2 separate regions of the Homo sapiens genome follow, and region 1 is linked to region 2. The links come from fine-mapping of genetic effects on gene expression. A gene starts in region 2. The other region holds a variant in brackets. All regions are shown on one strand. Distances are between the middles of the regions.

Region 1 (10,780 bases), 44 kb after region 2:
TCACCTGTTCCACAAATCAGCTCCTCCTCCCAGTGCCCTTTGTTTCCCTTTCATCAGAGTGACTAGCACCTGAGTCTGGCTTCTCACAGACTGGAGGCTCCTTGCGGGCAGGGAAGGAGTCTGGATTATAGCTCTCTCCTTCTAAATGCCTCCTCGGGTCTCCTGCCATGCCCCCTGCCACCTCCATTAGAGCACCAGGCGCCTCTGTGGATTCCTCTGGACCTTGTCTACCCCTTCCTCATGCAGGGCTGTGTCTTGATTTGCCTCCGTGGTCCCACTGTCCAGCACAACAGCTGGCCTGGAGGAAAGGCTGGCAGATTAAGTGGACCCGAGGCCCCTGGCTTCATATCCATGACTGAGGTGAGGCAACGGAGGTCCATTTTATGGATGGGCAAACTGACTTTCCACATGCTTCCTGCTTGGGGGCCTAGCTGCTTTCAAAAGCCCTATCTCCTGAGGCCACCTTTGCCCCAGAAGATGTCCTGGGGGAACACAGACCCCAGACTCACATTGACTGGGTACTGGGATACATCAGCCATAACAACTGTGGAGTAACGCTTCCTCTGCTCTGCCAGGGGAGAAAGAGAATGAGCCTGGGAGTCCAGGCCCAGCCCCTCCTCCATCAGACCCAGGAGTCCAGGCCCCCAGCCCCTCCTCCCTCAAACCTAGGAGTCCAGCCCCCCAGCCCCTCTTCCCTCTGACCCAGGAGTCCAGGCCCCCAGCCCCTCCTCCCTCAAACCCAGGAGTCCAGGCCCCCAGCCCCTCTTCCCTCTGACCCAGGAGTCCAGCCCCCCAGCCCCTCCTCCCTCTGACCCAGGAGTCCAGACCCCCAGCCCCTCTTCCCTCTGACCCAGGAGTCCAGGCCCCCAGCCCCTCTTCCCTCTGACCCAGGAGTCCAGGCCCCCAGCCCCTCTTCCCTCTGACCCAGGAGTCCAGCCCCCCAGCCCCTCTTCCCTCTGACTCAGGAGTCCAGACCCCCAGCCCCTCTTCCCTCTGACCCAGGAGTCCAGCCCCCCAGCCCCTCTTCCCTCTGACCCAGGAGTCCAGCCCCCCAGCCCCTCTTCCCTCTGACCCAGGAGTCCAGCCCCCCAGCCCCTCTTCCCTCTGACCCAGGAGTCCAGCCCCCCAGCCCCTCTTCCCTCTGACCCAGGAGTCCAGCCCCCCAGCCCCTCTTCCCTCTGACCCAGGAGTCCAGGCCCCCAGCACCTCTTCCCTCTGACTCAGGAGTCCAGGCCCCCAGCCCCTCCTCCCTCAAACCTAGGAGTCCAGCCCCCCAGCCCCTCTTCCCTCTGACCCAGGAGTCCAGACCCCCAGCACCTCTTCCCTCTGACTCAGGAGTCCAGACCCCCAGCCCCTCCTCCTCCAAGACCCTGGATGCCAGGTCCTGTTTCTTTAGACCCAGTTCTATGGGCCTGGGGCTCCCTTGCCCCCCGCTCACCATAGATAGACTTGGCGCTTGGCTTTGGGGCAGCTTCTGGGCTGGTGAAGAAAAGAGGAATGAGAGAGACTGTGGGACTGGGGGCAGATCCTGTGGAAATGCCAAGCAGGGCAGCAAGGGCTTCATGACGAAGGTAATGGGGAGCGATGGAAGGGTTATTATTATTATTATTATTATTATTATTATTATTATTATTGAGCAGGAGAGCTCAGAGCCAGAGCTGGACTTTAAGAAGACAGGTAGGCTGGGCGCGGTGGCTCACGCCTGTAATCCCAGCACTTTGGGAGGCAGAGGTGGGCGGATCACAAAGTCAAGAGATTGAGACCATCTTGGCCAACATGGTGAAACCCTGTCTCTACTAAAAATACAAAAATTAGCTGGGTGTGGTGGTGGGCGCCTGTAGTGCCAGCTACGTGGGAGGCTGAGGCAGGAGAATCACTTGAACCTGGGAGGCGGAGGTTGCAGTGAGTCCAGATCGTGCCACTGCACTCCAGCCTGGCAGCAGAGTGAGACTCCATCTCAAAAAAAAAAAAAAAAAAAAAAAGACAGGTCAGGTCAGGCGGTGGTGCTGGGTGGTAGGGGAGTGTGATCTCTACCATGGCATAGTCCGGGATTCAAACCCTCTGTCTACTGCCTCCTTGCCATAAGACCTTCAGAAGAGGATTTAATCTCTCCTGCCTCAGTTTTTCTTTCTGTAACGTAGTAACCATCTGGTAGGGCTGTTGGGCAAATTCAGTCAGATGATGCAGGTGAAGTATTTTGAAGCCTCAATAACTGTTATTATCATTCTTAAGATGCTGCCAGGGCTTAGCACACAGAAGTTGCTCAATAAATGGGAATGGTTATAATAGCATTAGTGGTATCTGAAGTAGACAGGGAATTATCTGCTTCCCCTCCCACTCCCATGGGCCAGGTGCTTCCCAACCACATCCTTCTCTGTCTCCTCCCGTCCTCAATTTCTTCCTAAGATTACCTTTCCTAAGAATTCTTGAATCCCCACTTGCATGCACATAACAGAAGCTCAGCGATCAGGTGGCGTCAGGGGAACTGAAAAACCCTTTTTCCCAAACTCCTGTTCCTCATCCTGCTCCTGCCAGTCTGATGTCACCACAATTTGATTACCTCTGGGCCAGAGAGCTCACTACCTACCATGCAGGTATTTTGACTCATCTCTCATTGTTTTTCTCCCTGCTTACTCTGGGGGACTTGAGTCTTCATTATAAACAGCCCTGATTTTCTAGCAAAGGGTTAATATTTACTAACAACATAACAATCGCAATAGCGACTCCTATGAGTTGAGCACCTGCTGTCAGTGAGGTGGTCAGCTAAGTCCTGTAATGCACTATCCCTCCAATTTTTCAACATTGTCCCTGTGTCACAGAGGAGGGGCTGAGGCTCCAGGAGGTGATGTCCTCTGACCAGGGTTACATCAGCACTGAGTGTGAGGGCCGAACTGGAGCTCAGGCCTGTCTGCTCTGCAGTGGGGGCCCCTAACCCCAGGCTGGGCAGGGAGGAGAGAGGCTCTGGCTTCCTCCTGAGTGTCGGGGCTTGGGCCAGAGTCTGGGCCGCCGCAAACAGTCTGGGCTGCCGCAAGCGGGTGTGGGTGAGGAGGCGAGGGGAGGCGGGAGGCGTGCTGGGGCTGGGACCTGGGGTCCGGGGGCGCTTACCCTGTGGCGGTGCTCATGGTGCTGAGTGGTAGCTCCTGCCCACCTGGAGGTGCCCTGGGAGCCAGCAAACATGTGAAGGCCTGGCCAGTAGGAGCCTCTAATTCCTACCCCAGCCTCCTCCCTCAATGCAGGCATCCAGGCCCCAGCCCCTCCTCCCTCAGGCCCAGGAGTCCAGGCCCCCAGCCCCTCCTCCCTCAGACCCAGAAGTCCAGGCCCCAGTCCCTCTTCCCTAGACCCAGGAGTCCAGACCCCAGTCCCCTCCTCCCTCAGACCCAGGAGTCCAGACCCCAGTCCACTCCTCCCTCAGACCCAGGAGTCCAGGCCCCATCTCCTCCTCCCTCAGACCCAGGAGTCCAGGCCCTCAGCCCCTCCTCCCTCAGACCTAGGAGTCCAGGACCCCAGGCCCTCCTCCCTCAGACCCGGGAGTTCAGACCCCCAGCCCGTCCTCCCTGAGACCCTGGAGTCCAGACCCCAGTCCCCCCGTCCCTCAGACCCATTGGTCAAGCCCCGGCCCCCTTCTCTCCTGACCCGGATCTCCTTACCTGCCTGCTCAGGCTCTGCCCTGCTCTCCGCTGTCCTTTCCCTTCCAGGCTGCCGGCCCCTCCTCCTGCTCCCTCCCAGGGCCGTCCTGCCTCCGCCTCCGCCTCCGCATACCTGAGCATTCACCTGGCACAGCCTGGCTGGAGTGACCCCGGGGCGGGGCTGGCAGACAGATCTAGGAGGGGCTGGGGGGACTGCAGGGGAGCTGGGAAACTAACTGTCTGCCTTGTAGCAACAGAATAATAGCAACGAACAGTACATTTGATGTCACACTTGTTCACAGGTCAGAGTTGAAAGCTCTGTCTTTAAAACTCCCTTGAAATTCTAACAGCGGGAGGAAGTTCGAGGTTTGATTCCTGCTTGACAGATGAGGAAGCTGAAGGCCAGAGAGGTTGAGCAACTTGTCCATTTCAGCACTTGGTTAAGGAGGGATTTGAACCCGGGGCTGACCTTCTGTCTCCAGGGCCAGTGGCAGCCCGTCTTCTATGGACACCTCCTGCCCACGATCACTGCCTCTGCTCATGCCCTTACCTCCCCACCCATCCCGTTCCACCTTCCTTTGGAAATTTCCCTCAATGACCCCCCTATTCTGACAAAAGCTAAGATTTAGCTCGATAATGCCTGGCCCAGCTCCAAGGACATCACAAAAATGAACAGGCTTTCCAGGCATAAACACCTTTCTGAAATCACTTTTCCAGAACTCCCTCCATGCTGTAGAGGTTACTAGCAAAGCTTTCCACATCATTTCTCCCCAGAGCCCCGTGAGGGGAGTGTGTCTGGGTGGGAGGCTGTCTTCGTCTCACAGATGAGAAAATGAGGAAGAGAAGGGTTAAGAAACTTGCATGGGTACAGTGGCTCACATCTCTAATCCCAGCACTTTGGGAGGCCGAGGCAGGCAGATCACCTGAGGACAGGAGTTCGAGACCAGCCCAGCCAACATGGTGAAACCCCATCTGTACTAAAAACACAAAAATTATCCAGGTGTGGTGGCGGGTGCCTGTAATCCCAGCTACTCAGGAGGCTGAGGCAGGAAAATCACTTGAACCCGGGAGGCAGAGGTTGCGGCGAGCCGATAATTGCACCACTGCACTCCAGCCTAGGCAAGAGAGCGAGGCTCCATCTCAAAAAACAGAAAACAGGCCGGGCGCAGTGGCTCACACCTGTAATCCCAGCACTTTGGGAGGCCGAGGCGGGTGGA[A/T]CACGAGGTCAGGAGATCGAGACCATCCTGGCTAACACGGTGAAACCCCGTCTCTACTAAAAATACAAACAATTAGCCGGGCGTGGTGGTGGGCACCTGTAGTCCCAGCTACTCGGGAGGCTGAGGCAGGAGAATGGCGTGAACCTGGAAGGCGGAGCTTGCAGTGAGCCGAGATTGCGCCATTGCACTCCAGCCTGGGCGACAGAGCGAGACTCTGTCTCAAAAAAGAAGAAAAAAAAAAAGCTGACATCTTGCAAGGCCTTAAGGGACGTGATTCTGATCTCATCTCTTCCTTCTGTGTGTCAGCACACTGGCCTCCTTGCTGCTCTTGGAACATCCAGACCCGGTCCTGCCTCAGGGCCTTTGCACTTGCTGTTTCCTCTGCCTGGAATGCTCTTCTACCAGATACCCTCATGCCTCACTTTCTTGCCTCCTTTGATCTTTGCCTGAATGTCACCTTCTCAGAGGACTGGCTGACCACCCTGTTTCAAATGGCGGCATCCCTTACTCGACTTCTTTTGTTTTTTTTGAGACAGAGTTTCACTCTTGTTGCCCAGGCTGGAGTGCAGTGGCGCAATCTTGGCTCACCGCAACCTCCGCCCCCCCAGGTTCAAGTGATTCTCCTGCCTCAGCCTCCTGAGTAGCTGGGACTACAGGCGCGCGCCACCACGCCCGGCTAATTTTGTACTTTTAGTAGAGACAGCATTTCACCATGTTGGCCAGGATGGTCTCGATCTCTTGACCTCGTGATCTGCCCGCCTCGGCCTCCCAAAGTGCTGGGATTATGGGTGTGAGCCACCGCCCCCGGCAACCCAACTTCTTTGTAGTCTCTTTCCTCTCTCCCTACTTCATTTTTGTGTGGAGAACTTTTCACCTTCTTACCCACTGTGTTCCTGGTTCATTTTGTCTGTGTCTCCTCCGTTAGAATGCAAGCTTCACAGGCTGGGCACGGTGGCACATGCCTGTAATCCCAGCACTTTGGGAGGCTGAGGCGGATTGATCACTTGAGGTTGGGAGTTCGAGACCAACCTGGCCAACATGGTGAAAGCACGTCTCTACTGAAAATATGAAAATTAGCCGGGGGTGGTGGTGTACACCTGTAATCCCAGCTTCTTGGGAGGCTGAGACAAGAAAATTGCTTGAACCCCGGAGGTGGAGGTTGCAGTCAGCCGAGATCACACCATGTCACCAACATGATAAAACCCCATTTCTACTAAAAAAAAAAAAATTAGCCAGAGTTGGTGGTGCACACCTGTAATCCCAGCTTCTTGGGAGACCAAGGCAAGAGAGTCACTTGAACCTGGGAGGTGGAGGTTGCAGTGAACCGAGATGATCGTGCCACTGCACTCCAGCCTGGGTGACAGAGCGAGACTCCATCTTAAAAAAAAAAAAAGCGGCCGGGTGTGGTGGCTCACGCCTGTAATCCCAGCACTTTGGGAGGCCGAGGCGTGTGGATCACGAGGTCAGGAGATTGAGACCATCCTGGCTAACATGGTGAAACCCCGTCTCTACTAAAAATACAAAACAATTAACCAGGCTTGGTGGTGGGTGCCTGTAGTCCCACCTACTCCGGAGGCTGAGGCAGGAGAATGGCGTGAACCCGGGAGGTGGAGATTGCAGTGAGCCAAGATTGCTCCACTGCACTCCAGCCTGGGTGACAGAGCAAGACTCCATCTCAAAAAAAAAAAAAAAAAAATGCAAGCTTCACAAGGGCAAAGATTTTTGTGTGATCAGTCCTCCACTTAATCTGCAGCACACAGAATTGGGTCTAGCACATAGAAAGTGTTGGAGAGATACTTGTTGAGTAAACGAGCTTTTGGCATTTGGTGCATTCATGTGCATTACTGCTTTGTTGCTTCATTCAAGATATGTTGCCTCCACGGTCTATGCTGAGTGAGCCTGGAAATCAGAGAAGGCACATTTTTGCCTTCGATTGATGGGGATGAAGGAACAGAGAGAAAGAGATATAGTGTGGTCTGATGGCAGAGAGCCTCGGGCAGGTGTGGGTCTGAATCCTGGCTTTGCCACTTGATAATTTTGGAGATACTTATTGTGTGCTTATATCTTCTCAGTACATCATAAATGTGTGTGTGTGTGTGTGTGTGTGTGTATGCATAATCCTCACCACATCCTATGGAATGGGTCCTATTATCCCCATTTTTTTTCTTAATTGAGACAAGGTCTAGTTCTGTGGCCCAGGCTAGAATGCAGTGTCATAATCACAGCTCACTGCAGTCTCGACCTACTGGGGTGATCCTCCCATCTCAGACTATATATAAATATATATACACATATATATAGTAGAGTCTCCTTATGTTGCCCAGGCTGGTCTCCAACTCCTGGGCTCATGTGATACTCCTGCCTTATCCTCCCGAAGTGCTGGGATGACAGGCATGAGCCACCCACCACACCCAGCTTATTGGGAGGATAAAGTCAGGTTATAGAGAGTTGTCAATACAGTACCTGGCAAAGAGGAAACGCAAGGCTGGTGTTAGCAATGGCGAGGACGATGGCCTTTCTTCCCATGCGTGCTGCAAGGGAGGACACGAGGGGCTCTGCCAAGGCCAGGAGAGGCTGCTGAGGGTCAGGACAGGCTGCCTGGAGGAGGAGGACAGGCTGCCTGGAGGAGGAGGGCAGGCCAGGAATCACCTTGAAGGATGAGTTTGACAGCCAGTGTCAATCCTAGAAGATAGGGGTGTTCTGGGCCCTGCAACTGCCTGAGTGAAGGATGGGGGCTGCAGGGGTGGCCAGCGGGGCTAGACTGTGAGCTCCTGGCTACCCAGCAGGTGGTCCTGGTGCGTGTAGCAGCGGGTGGGGGAGGTAGGGGTGGAAGGAGGGCCCTTACGCTTCTCTTTCTTTGGCTTCTGCAATTCTGTGTTCTCATCACATTCATGCCACAAGTATTTTCTGTGCTTGACTGTACCTGAGTTGGGGTTTGAGGGAAGGAGCAGACCCCTTGCCCCATTGACAGGAGAAAACAGAGGCTCAGAGAGGGAAGTCAGTAGCCTAAGGTTACAGTGGCCCTGGGCTGTGACACAGATGCAGATCTGACTGGGCCTGGGCTCATTTCTTCATGAACAAGGGGAGAAAACTATCTCATAGAAGCATTTGGTATGGGTCCGAGGCCTTTGGGTCTGAGGGAGGAGGGGCTGGGGTCTGGACTCTTGGGTCTGAGGGAGGAGGGGCTGGGGGCCTGGACTCCTGGGTCTGAGGGAGGAGGGGCTATCTCATTGCTTTGGGGGTGGCGCAGGCGGCCCTCCAGGCCATGGTCTGGAGCAGCAGGTGAGACCGAAACCCGAGCCTCCACCCAAGTCCCAAGTCCCAGGGCCCAGGGCCTCTTTCCTCCTTCTCTGGCCGCAAAGGAGGCCCCTCCCTCTCTGTAACCCACAGCAAATGCCTCCCAAATACCAGTCAAAGTGTCCACCCCTGCACAGTCTGACTCAGCCAGTCCAGGGCGGAGGCAGTAAAGCCCTGTCTTGGCAAGTCACCAGGGAAATCCATCACCGAAGCACCTCTCTCCCCCCTCGGCCTGGCTATTCTGTCATTGGCACCTGTTCTTGGGTGAGTGACAGGGCTCTGTGGTCAGGGTTTGCCTCTGTCCCAGTCTGGGATAGCTGTCTTGGGGGGCTGGCCTTTCTTCCCTCTCACCTGGGATGTCCCAGGAACGGAACAGAATTCTCCCCTGGGGCTTGAAGAGCTCACCCCCCATCTCCTCCGTTATCCCCACCCCCACACCACCCAACACACATCCTCTAGTCTGTAGGATTTGCTGACAAATTCCTATGACAGCCGGATGTGGTGCCTCACACCTGTTACCCAGCATTTTGGGAGGCCATCACTTGAGATCAGGAGTTCGAGACCAGCTTAGCCAACATGGTGAAACCCCATCTCTACAAAAGTAGCTGGGTGTGGTGGCGTGCGCTTGTAGTCCCAGCTACTAGGGAGACTGAGGCAGGAGAATCACTTGAACCCGGGAGGCAGAGGTTGCAGCGAGCCATTGCGCCATGCACTCCAGGCTGGGTGACTGACTGAGATTCTGACTCAAAAAAAAAAAAAAATCCTATGACAAGGAGAAAGGTCAGATTCCCTGGCAATGGGAGCTGAGGCATGTTCTTGAGAAGGAGGGAGGTTATAAATTAGATGGGGCTGGGTCTCAGAGAGATATAGCTACTTACATATTAAATAATGAGGCTGAGTGTGGCGTCTCACACCTATAGTCCCAGTACTTTGGGAAGCAGAGGCAGGAGGATCCCTTGAGCCTAGGAGTTTGAAACCAGCCTGGGCAACATAGGGAGATTCCATCCCTACCAAAAAAAAAATTAAAAATTAGCCAGGCATAGTGGCCTGCATCTGTGGTCCTAGCTGCTTGGGAGGCTGAGGTGGGAGGATTGCTTGAACCTGGGAGGTCAAGGTACAGTGAGCCACGATTGCACCACTGCACTCCAGCCTGGGTGACAGAGCAAGACCTTGTCTCAAAAAAAGTAATTAATTTATTTATTCAATACGTAGCTCCTGAGACAAAATGTGTGCCGTACTCTAGACCCTGCTGGTGTGCACAATTCATGGGGGATATGTGCGCTAATGGAAGTGTGGCACAGGGCAAGGGTGTCCCCAGAGAAAGCCCTAATCCAGCTTTATGGGTGGTTGTATGAGGCACAGAAGCCTTTCCTGGTTAAGGGATAAATGGATGGGGTTTCAAAGGATGAATAGGAGTTTGCCAAGGACAATGAAGCAAAGATTGACATTCTAAGCATTGGGAGTGTCCTATGCAAAATCCCAAAGTGATGTAGTAGCAAATACTTAAGCACCTACAGTGTGCCAAGCATGTTTCATGTGCTGGAGATACAGAGGAGGAGGAGACAGATGAAACCCCAGCCCTTGTGATATTGTCATCCTAGTAGGTGTGGTGGGGAGATAAACAAGTAGACACCTGCATGAATAAGACTTTCAGATTGTGGTAAACCCTGTGGAGGAAACGAAACAGGTGAAGGAACGGCGTGACTAGGAGCAGGCAGGTGCGGCTGCTTCAGGTAGGGTGGTCAGGGAAGGAGGCGGCATCTGAGCTTTGACCTCAATTTCGAGAATGAGCCAGGAATGCAGAGAGGATTTCAGGCAGAGGAAACCTTAGGGAGGCTGGCGGGTTAAATCTGCAGGGGTGTGGCTGGCCGGAGGAAGTGAGGTGTGAGACAGTCACGTTGATGGTGACAGCAGCAGTGACCGTAGCAGCCTAGAGGTGGCCGAATGCTTACTCTAATGGGCTGGCCCATCCCTGAGTGTCTAGAGTTCCCAGCCCGCTTAAGGAAGGAAGGAAAACACAGGCAGCTCTAAGTGTACGACGAGGGAGGTCTCATCGGCGGTGAGGAAGCCCAGGCGGGTCCCCTTCCCAGCTGAAAGGGGTTCGGGTAGGTTTTTCCTGGGCGTTCCTCTGAGAACAGCCAGCCCTGGTGAGAGTGCGGGGAGAGGCGCTTATGACACAGGGAGGGTGGGTCTGGGAACCAGCCTGGCAGGAGGAGGAGGGAGACTGCCGGTGGCCGGGAGCTGTTTGTTCTCTGGGAGGGATCGTGGCGGGGTGGTTTGTGCAGCCCTTTCCTGAAACCGGAGGAGCCTGGCTCCTTCCCAGGTCTCTGGGGGATGGGTCGGGGCGGGGGGTGGTGACGGGGATAGGACCCCAGACAGACTTGAGTTTGGATCCTGGGTTGGAGCCGGTGACTTCACTCTCAGCTCCCTGAACATCAGGGCCTGCCTTTCTTCCCTCCCTTCCCCTCCCCTCCCCTCCCCTTCCTTCCTTCCTTCCTTCCTTCCTTCCTTCCTTCCTTCCTTCCTTCCCTTCCTTTCCCTTCCCTCCCTCCCTTTATTCTTTTCTTTTTTTCTTTTCTTTTCTTTCTTTCTTGACAGAGTCTTGCTCTGTCGCCCAGGCTGGAGTGCAGTGGCGCGATC
Region 2 (10,005 bases):
TATCTCCCAAGGGAGGTCCCCTGATCCTAGTCACGGCACCAAATGTCACGCACGTCCGTGTGAAGAGACCACCAAACAGGCTTTGTGTGAGCAAAAAGGCTATTTATTTCACCTGGGTGCAGGTGGGCTGAGTCCGAAAACAGAGTCAGCAAAGGTGGGATTATCATTAGTTCTTATAGGTTTGGGATGGGCGTACAAAGTACATTCTCAAGGGCAGGGAGAATATTACAAAGTACCTTCTTAAAGGCGGGGGAGAATATTACAAAGTACCTTCTTAAGGACCAGGCAGAATATATCGTATCAGTTAGGGTGGGGCGGGAACAAATCACAATGGTAGAATGTCATCAGGTAAGACTATTTTCGCTTCTTTTTTGGATCTTCAGTTGCTTCAGGCCATCTTCATGTATATGTGCAGGCCCACAGGGGATATGATGGCTTAGCTTGGGCTCGGAGGCCCGACACTGGGATATGTAACCATTATTCTAGATGGCTATGCTAAACCCAGCATAATCAGAGGTTCCATTTTGTTGAGAAAGAAGGGGACAACGAATATTGGGCAACAATTTGTCATCTCTGCCACTGAAACCACTGCTTCTCTGTCCACTACATTTTATCAAAGGCAGAGTGTCTTGCAATCAGCTTGACTTGCAAGAGGCTCAAAGGCCTCTTGGAATGCCTTGCATCAGTTTGCTTTTGTGGCATAAAAAGTTACCCCAGGTGGGCGCAGTGGCTCACCCCTGCCTGTAATCCCAGCACTTTGGGAGGCTGAGGCGGGTGGATCACTTGAGGCCAGGAGTTCAAGACCAGCCTGGTCAGCATAGTGAAACCCCATCTCTACTGAAAACACACAAAAAGTAGCCAGGCATGGTGGCTGGTGCCTGTAATTCCAGTTACTTAGGAGGCTGAGGCAGGAGAATCACTTGACCCTCAGAGGTGGAGGTTGCAGTGAGCCGAGGTCATGCCACTGCATTCCAGCCTGGATGACAGAGTGGGACTTGGTCTCAAAAAAAAAAAGCAAAGAAAAAAGAAAAAAGTTACCCCAAATATTAGTGGCTTGAGTCAACAGTCATCTATTTAACTTATGGTTTGAGGGCTGGGCGCGGTGGCTCATGCCTGTAATCCCAGCACTTTGGGAGGCCAAGGCGGGCGGATCATGAGGTCAGGAGATTGAGACCATCCTGGCTAACACAGTGAAACCCCATCTCTACTAAAAATACAAAAAAATTAGCCAGGTGTGGTGGCAGGCGTCTGTAGTCCCAGCTACTCGGGAGGCTGAGGCAGGAGAATGGCGTGAACCCAGGAGGTGGAACTTGCAGTGAGGGGAGATCGCGCCACTGCACTCCAGCCTGGGAGACAGAGCGAGACTCCGTCTCAAAAAAAAAAAAAAAAATTATAGTTTGAGAGTTGGCAAATTGGGCTGGGCTCCGCTGGGAGTTCTTGTCTGGCTGATCTTGGCTGGACTTGCTCATGCATCTGCAGTCTCCTGGTGAATCAACAGGGGCTGGCTGTGGTCATCCCACTAGTGCCTCTTCATGTTCCCGCAGCTGGACCCAGATCCCTCCTGATTATAATGGCAGTGCTAAACTAACAGTGTCATTGAGGAGTTATGTTTGGCTGATAGTAAGAGACAGCTCCCCAAATAACAATAGTTTTGGTGAATTGGAGGTTTGTTTTCTCATATGTAACCTAAAAGACAAGAGGTAGGCAGTCCAGGGAAGGAAAGGCAGATCCCAACTGCCATCAGGAACTGAGGCTTCTAAGGCCAGGTGCAGTGGCTCATGCCTGTAATCCCAGCACTTTGGGAGGCCAAGGCGGGCAGATCATGAGGTCAGGAGTTTGAGACTATCCTGGCCAACATGGTGAAACCCCGTCTCTACTAAAAATACAAGAATTAGCCAGGCGTGGTGGCGTGCACCTGTAGTCCCAAGAGAATCGCTTGAACCCAAGAGGTGGAGGTTGCAGTGAGCTGAGATCATGCCGCTGCACTCCAGCCTGGGTGACAGAGCGAGACTCCATCTCAAAAAAAAAAAAAAAAAAAAGAAATTCCAGTTCTGGATTTGACAGTCCTCAGATTGAACCTTGTCTTGGCCAATTTCTAGCTCTGTGACTGGGGCTAGTCTCTTAGTCTCTGCCTCCTGGAGTTGATGAGATGATGTACATAAAATATCTGATAGGCATGTGATGTTGGCTGTGAGCATCTTCATATGCCACTCAAGAACATCATCTTTTGCTCTTGTCTTCCTGTGGTAAAGGTTTTGTTTTCACTTCTAGGGTCTGCTCTTTGCTCTCAATGGTAACAGTGGAATGTTGGTGCTTAACCTTGGAACTGCAGGCCCTCCTCACTGGTGTAAATAACCTCAGAAAGATAAGAAGAAAATGTTCCCACTTCTTCTGTAACAGCAGAAAAATAGATATTAGTCTGCACCATAAAGATGGTTCAGATAAGCAGGTGAAGTTAGAACATCCACAAAAGTATAAAATTGACTCTTCTGTCCTGTGTGGAGAGGGGTAAGAGTATTATAAGCCCATTCTGATTTCTGTTATTTTACTCTTTTTTGATTGCGCCAGTGCAATCCAGCCTGGGCGATGACAAGAGTGAAACTCCATCTCAAAACAAACAAACAAACAAACAAAAACAAACCATAAACACAAACTCATAAACAACATACATCCAGCCACAGACATGATTGCAAATACACACAATTATACATAAAGGCACAGAATACATACAGAACCAGAGCTACACGGTAACACCCTGAAGACCGACTTCTTGTTTTCCTGGGGGAAGGAGGTTGGTGTGTAAGTATGTGGAAAGTGTGGGGTTCAGGGACCACACCTAAGAGCCACCAGAACTATCCCTTTCTATAGAAACAGGCTTCGTGGCGGATGAAGACCCCATCTTGGGGTTCCACCAGATATTCCTACTAAAGAACATCAGCTGGGTGTGGTGGCTCATGCCTGTAATCCCAGCACTTTGGGAAGCTGAGGCGGGTGGATCACTTGAGGTCAGGAGATCGAGACCAGCCTGGCCAACATGGTGAAACCTTGTCTCTACTAAAAATACAAAAATTAGCCAGGCGTGGAGCACGCCTGTAATCCCAGCTACTTGGGAGGCTGAGGTAGGAGAATCACTTGAACCTGGGAGGCGGAGGTTGCAGTGAGCCGAGATCACATCACTGCACTCCAGCCTGGGCGACACAGTGAGACTCCGTCTCAAAAACAAAACAAAACCAAACAAAACAAAACATCAGCGATGCAATGATGCTTGGGTTTGCACCAATGATATGCAGGCTTGCTCTGCACAACTTCAGCTGACCTCCTCTCCACCGGGCCCTCACGCTGCCTCCTCTTCCCTCCTCTTTCCAGAACTATTGCCACTCCTCCAGATATGATGCACAAATGAGCAGGGTCGCAGTGGGAGTGGGCGCAGTGCGCTGATGCCACGGAGGTGTTGTGCATGACGTCTGGACACTAGACTAGCTGCATGTAATGGGAAAAGTTTGTGTTGTACCAGCGCATGCCTTGGAAAGACTTAAGTAATGCAAAAGGTTGTCCTTTAAAAAAAAAAAAAATCTGGCCGGTCGCGGCGGCTCACGCCTGTAATCCCAGCATTTTGGGAGGCCGAGGCAGTCGGATCACGAGGTCAGGAATTCGAGACCAGCCTGGCCAACATGGTGAAACCCCGTCTCTACTAAAAAACAAAAATTAGCCGGGCGTGGTGGAGCACGCCTGTAGTCCCAGCTACTCAGGAGGCTGAGGCAGGAGAATCGCTTGAACCCGGGAGGCAGAGCTTGCAGTGAGCCGACATCGCGCCACTGCACTCCAGCCTGGGCGACAGAGCAAGCCTCCGTCTCAAAAACAACAACAACAACAAAAAAAAACAAAACTACTGACAAGTTGCTCTACTTAACCCAAAGAAAGTGAAGGAGAAAGCGGCTGCCTCACCGCCTAGACATTGAGTCGCCGGATGTTTCAATGCCTCATGATACAATAAAACCACAAAAATTTTCGTAACAGCAGCAGCAACAACAACAACAAAAGAGAAAGAGAGAGGGAAAGAAACAGGCCTCGTGGGATGCGCAGTTTACGTCTCCGCGCAAACCCAAGGACTTCAGAGTGGGTGGGAAACTCCCACAGCGCTTGGGAAACAGTCTGTAGTCTCTGTCCCGATTTTGGCCCTTTTCTGTATGATTTTTATGGGACTCTTCCTGTCACAAAGTGCCAGCCACCTTCCCAATCTTGAGTTGGGCGCGGGATCCGTAAGGTGAAGATCAAGGTGTGCTCATCGCTTGGGCCCGCTGAAAGGTGATTCGCCCCCCACCTGCTGGAACTCCTTGCCCGGGACCACCAATCCCAGCATGCCTTGAGAGCGCGCGAGGGCCTGGGCGGTTCCCAGGAGGTCCGGGTGGGCGCAGGAGAAGCGCGGGCCAGTGAAAGCTCTGAGAGCCCTGTCCCTGTGGACACTGTGTCTTGGGTTCCTTTACTCGGTGTGGCTCAGGGATTACCATTAGGGAGTGGAGTGTGGATTTCTCTTGCCCCGAGCCCTAAATGCCTTGGGGCCCTGCCTTGCACCCCACTGTGCTTTTAGGGGTGTGGCCCTGTGGGCTACATTTCCCAGCGTGCCCTAGGATCGTGGTCCTGACCTTTTCACCGCAAATTTCATTTCCCAGCATGCCCTGCGAGGTCACCCAGGGAAGCTTGGAAGTGGACTGTCTTTCATGGCTTCTAGGTTGCGGACTCAGTTTCCCATGGTGCCCTGGTGAACCCATTCATTCATTCATTCCAAAAATATTTGCGATCAGGTTCTCTCAGGTTCTGTTCTAAGAACCGAGGACAAGTAGTGCACAGAAGACAAAAGATCCCGCTCTCGTGGAGCTTATTTCTAGTTAAGGGGTCAGGAAAAAAACCAAAATAAATAAAACCCAGCTGGGCATGGTGGCTTACGCTCGTCATCCCAGCAGGATTACAGGCCGAGGCGGGCGGATCATGAGGTCAAGAGATCAAGACCATCATGGCCAACATGGTGAAATCCCGTCTCTACTAAAAATATAAAAATTAGCAGGGCGGGGTGGCGCGCGCCTGTTATCCCAGCTACTCTGGGGACTGAGCCAGAATTGCTTGAACCTGGGAAGCGGAGGTTGCAGCGAGCCGATATCGCGCCACTGAACTCCAGCGTGGCGACAGAGCGAGACTCCGTCTCAAAACAAAGAAAACAAAATAAAACAACAATAACAAAACAACTCTGCCTCTCCCCGCACTCCCTCCCACGCGGCTGTCCAGTCGAATTCCTAACTGCCCCGGGGCAGTCTGCTATTCATCCCCTTTACCCGGTGCTACACACTTCCTAGTATGCCGTGGGGCACCCCTCCGGCCTGTAGACTCCATTTCCCAGCATTCCCCGGAGGAGGCCCTCATCTGGCGATTTCCACTGGGCGCCTCGGAGCTGCGGACTTCCCAGTGTGCATCGGGGCACAGCGACTCCTGGAAGTGGCCAAGGGCCACTTCTGCTAATGGACTCCATTTCCCAGCGCTCCCCGCGACCTGCCCAGCACACCCTGGGGCAGCGCCGTGACGTCAGCACGCCGGGCGGGGACCGGGAGATCCTTGGGGCGGTGGGGGGCCAGCGGCAGTTCCCGGCGGCCCCCGGGGCGGGCGGGCGGGCGGGTGGTGGCGGCGGTTGGGGCTCGGCGCTCGCTCGCTCGCTGGGCGGGCGGGCGGTGCGATGTCCGGAGAGGATGGCCCGGCGGCTGGCCCGGGGGCGGCGGCGGCGGCTGCCCGGGAGCGGCGACGGGAGCAGCTGCGGCAGTGGGGGGCGCGGGCGGGCGCCGAGCCTGGCCCCGGAGAGCGCCGCGCCCGCACCGTCCGCTTCGAGCGCGCCGCCGAGTTCCTGGCGGCCTGTGCGGGCGGCGACCTGGACGAGGCGCGTCTGATGCTGCGCGCCGCCGACCCTGGCCCCGGCGCCGAGCTCGACCCCGCCGCGCCGCCGCCCGCCCGCGCCGTGCTGGACTCCACCAACGCCGACGGTATCAGCGCCCTGCACCAGGTCAGCGCCCCCCGCCCGGCGTCTCCCGGGGCCAGGTCCACCCTCTGCTGCGCCACCTGGGGCATCCTCCTTCCCCGTTGCCAGTCTCGATCCGCCCCGTCGTTCCTGGCCCTGGGCTTTGCCACCCTATGCTGACACCCCGTCCCAGTCCCCCTTACCATTCCCCTTCGACCACCCCACTTCCGAATTGGAGCCGCTTCAACTGGCCCTGGGCTTAGCCACTCTGTGCTGACCACTCTGCCCCAGGCCTCCTTACCATTCCCCTTCGACCTACTCTCTTCCGCATTGGAGTCGCTTTAACTGGCCCTGGCTTTGGCAGCCTGTGCTGACCCATGCAGTCCTCCTTACCATCCCTCCCTCGACTTCCCCTCTTCCGATGTTGAGCCCCTCCAGCCGGTCCTGGACTTTGTCTCCTTCCCTGCCCTGCCCTCTCCTGAACCTGAGCCAGCTCCCATAGCTCAGTCTGGTCTATCTGCCTGGCCCTGGCCATTGTCACTTTGCGCTGCCCTCCTCTCGCCCCCGAGTGCCCTTGCTGTGCCGCCGGAACTCTGCCCTCTAACGCTGCCGTCTCTCTCCTGAGTCCGGACCACTTTGAGCTCTACTGGCTTCTGCGCCGCCTCTGGCCCACTGTTTCCCCTTCCCAGGCAGGTCCTGCTTTCTCTGACCTGCATTCTCTCCCCTGGGCCTGTGCCGCTTTCTGTCTGCAGCTTGTGGCCTGGGTCACCTCTACGGCTGGCCCAGATCCTTCCCTGCCGCCTCCTTCAGGTTCCGTCTTCCTCCACTCCCTCTTCCCCTTGCTCTCTGCTGTGTTGCTGCCCAAGGATGCTCTTTCCGGAGCACTTCCTTCTCGGCGCTGCACCACGTGATGTCCTCTGAGCGGATCCTCCCCGTGTCTGGGTCCTCTCCGGGCATCTCTCCTCCCTCACCCAACCCCATGCCGTCTTCACTCGCTGGGTTCCCTTTTCCTTCTCCTTCTGGGGCCTGTGCCATCTCTCGTTTCTTAGGATGGCCTTCTCCGACGGATGTCTCCCTTGCGTCCCGCCTCCCCTTCTTGTAGGCCTGCATCATCACCGTTTTTCTGGACAACCCCAAAGTACCCCGTCTCCCTGGCTTTAGCCACCTCTCCATCCTCTTGCTTTCTTTGCCTGGACACCCCGTTCTCCTGTGGATTCGGGTCACCTCTCACTCCTTTCATTTGGGCAGCTCCCCTACCCCCCTTACCTCTCTAGTCTGTGCTAGCTCTTCCAGCCCCCTGTCATGGCATCTTCCAGGGGTCCGAGAGCTCAGCTAGTCTTCTTCCTCCAACCCGGGCCCCTATGTCCACTTCAGGACAGCATGTTTGCTGCCTCCAGGGATCCTGTGTCCCCGAGCTGGGACCACCTTATATTCCCAGGGCCGGTTAATGTGGCTCTGGTTCTGGGTACTTTTATCTGTCCCCTCCACCCCACAGTGGGGCCACTAGGGACAGGATTGGTGACAGAAAAGCCCCATCCTTAGGCCTCCTCCTTCCTAGTCTCCTGATATTGGGTCTAACCCCCACCTCCTGTTAGGCAGATTCCTTATCTGGTGACACACCCCCATTTCCTGGAGCCATCTCTCTCCTTGCCAGAACCTCTAAGGTTTGCTTACGATGGAGCCAGAGAGGATCCTGGGAGGGAGAGCTTGGCAGGGGGTGGGAGGGAAGGGGGGGATGCGTGACCTGCCCGGTTCTCAGTGGCCACCCTGCGCTACCCTCTCCCAGAACCTGAGCTGCTCTGACGCGGCCGTCTGGTGCGTTTCACTGATCCTGGTGCTGCAGCTTCCTTACACTTCCCAAGAGGAGAAGCAGTTTGGAAAAACAAAATCAGAATAAGTTGGTCCTGAGTTCTAACTTTGGCTCTTCACCTTTCTAGTCCCCAATTTATATTGTTCCTCCGTGCGTCAGTTTTACCTGTGAGATAAGGCCAGTAGCCAGCCCCGTCCTGGCAGGGCTGTGGTGAGGAGGGGGGTGTCCGTGTGGAAAACTCCCTTTGTGAGAATGGTGCGTCCTAGGTGTTCACCAGGTCGTGGCCGCCTCTACTCCCTTTCTCTTTCTCCATCCTTCTTTCCTTAAAGAGTCCCCAGTGCTATCTGGGACATATTCCTCCGCCCAGAGCAGGGTCCCGCTTCCCTAAGGCCCTGCTCTGGGCTTCTGGGTTTGAGTCCTTGGCAAGCCCAGGAGAGGCGCTCAGGCTTCCCTGTCCCCCTTCCTCGTCCACCATCTCATGCCCCTGGCTCTCCTGCCCCTTCCCTACAGGGGTTCCTGGCTCTGCTCTTCAGACTGAGCCCCGTTCCCCTGCATCCCCGTTCCCCTGCATCCCCCTTCCCCTGCATCCCCCAGAGGCCCCAGGCCACCTACTTGGCCTGGACCCCACGAGAGGCCACCCCAGCCCTGTCTACCAGGCTGCCTTTTGGGTGGATTCTCCTCCAACTGTGGGGTGACTGCTTGGCAAACTCACTCTTCGGGGTATCCCAGGAGGCCTGGAGCATTGGGGTGGGCTGGGGTTCAGAGAGGAGGGATTCCCTTCTCAGGTTACGTGGCCAAGAAGCAGGGGAGCTGGGTTTGGGTCAGGTCTGGGTGTGGGGTGACCAGCTTATGCTGTTTGCCCAGGACAGCCTAGTTTTAGCACTGAAACCCTCAGTCCTAGGAAAACAGGGATGGTTGGTCACTGTCTCTGGGTGACTCTTGATTCCCGGCCAGTTTCTCCACCTGGGGCTGTGTTTCTCGTCCTGCATCCTTCTCCAGGCAGGTCCCCAAGCATCGCCCCCCTGCTGTGGCTGTTCCCAAGTTCTTAGGGTACCCCACGTGGGTTTATCAACCACTTGGTGAGGCTGGTACCCTGCCCCCATTCCTGCACCCCAATTGCCTTAGTGGCTAGGGGGTTGGGGGCTAGAGTAGGAGGGGCTGGAGCCAGGATTCTTAGGGCTGAACAGAGAAGAGCTGGGGGCCTGGGCTCCTGGGTTTGAGAGAGGAGGGGCTGGGGCCTGGACTCCTGGGTCCGAGGGAGGAGGGGCTGGGGCCTGGACTCCTGGGTCTGAGGGTGGAGGGACTGGGGGCCTGGACTCCTGGGTCCGAGGGAGGAGGGGCTGGGGCCTGGACTCGTGGGTCTGAGGGAGGAGGGGCTGGGGGCCTGGACTTCTGGGTCTTAGGGAGGCGGGGCTGGGCCTGGACCCCTGGGTCTGAATGGGGAGAGGCTGGGGGCCTGGACTCCTTCATCTGAGGGCGGAAGGGCTGGGGCCTGGCCTCCTGGGTTGAATGGGGAGGGGTTGGGCCTGGACTCTGGAGTCCCTGGTGCCCAGGCCTCAGGCATCTTTCACAGGGATGCCTGTACTGGGCAGGTCCTTGAAAGGGAAAGGCCCATTGCTCTCCTTGCCCCCCTCCCCTATCGCCATGACAACTGGGTGGAAATAAACGAGCCGAGTTCATCCCGTTCCCAGGGCACGTGCGGCCCCTTCACAGCCCGAGTTTCCATGACCTCATGCTCTTGGCCCTCGTAGCTCCCTCCCGCCTCCTCCAGATGGGCAGCTTTGGAGAGGTGAGGGACTTGGGGGGTAATTTATCCCGTGGATCTAGGAGTTTAGCTTCACTCCTTCCTCAGCTCCAGTTCAGGTCCCGGAGCCCACCCAGTGTCCACAAGGCCTGGGGCAAGTCCCTCCTCCGACCCCCTGGACTTCGGCTTTTGTCCCCCCAAGTTTTGGACCCCTAAGGGAAGAATGAGAAACGGTGGCCCGTGTCAGCCCCTGGCTGCAGGGCCCCGTGCAGAGGGGGCCTCAGTGAACTGGAGTGTGACAGCCTGGGGCCCAGGCACACAGGTGTGCAGCTGTCTCACCCCTCTGGGAGTCCCGCCCAGGCCCCTGAGTCTGTCCCAGCACAGGGTGGCCTTCCTCCACCCTGCATAGCCCTGGGCCCACGGCTTCGTTCCTGCAGAGTATCTGCTGGGGTG

What was found.
Region 1: its variant is fine-mapped to the expression of PPP1R12C in prefrontal cortex (GTEx, PIP 0.95).

The regions. Positions count from the first base shown.
Region 1 is chr19:55,068,787-55,079,566 of GRCh38, reverse strand. It overlaps EPS8L1 (EPS8 signaling adaptor L1), which reads right to left and starts at 3,698. Exons shown (of 20, transcript NM_133180.3): 1 at 3,648-3,698; 2 at 3,106-3,159; 3 at 1,439-1,479; 4 at 510-568. The coding sequence starts at 3,122. It also overlaps a transcript of RDH13 not described here. RefSeq lists an enhancer at 2,519-3,244. The variant A/T (reference allele first, on the strand shown) is at 4,844.
Region 2 is chr19:55,113,261-55,123,265 of GRCh38, reverse strand. It overlaps PPP1R12C (protein phosphatase 1 regulatory subunit 12C), which reads left to right and starts at 5,629. Exons shown (of 22, transcript NM_017607.4): 1 at 5,629-6,043. The coding sequence starts at 5,723. MIR7975 (microRNA 7975) reads left to right here; the gene lies at 1-41. RefSeq lists enhancers at 2,246-2,335, 5,274-5,553, 6,514-6,593, 6,994-7,043, 6,398-7,233 and 3 more and silencers at 5,614-5,693, 5,884-5,963, 5,984-6,083.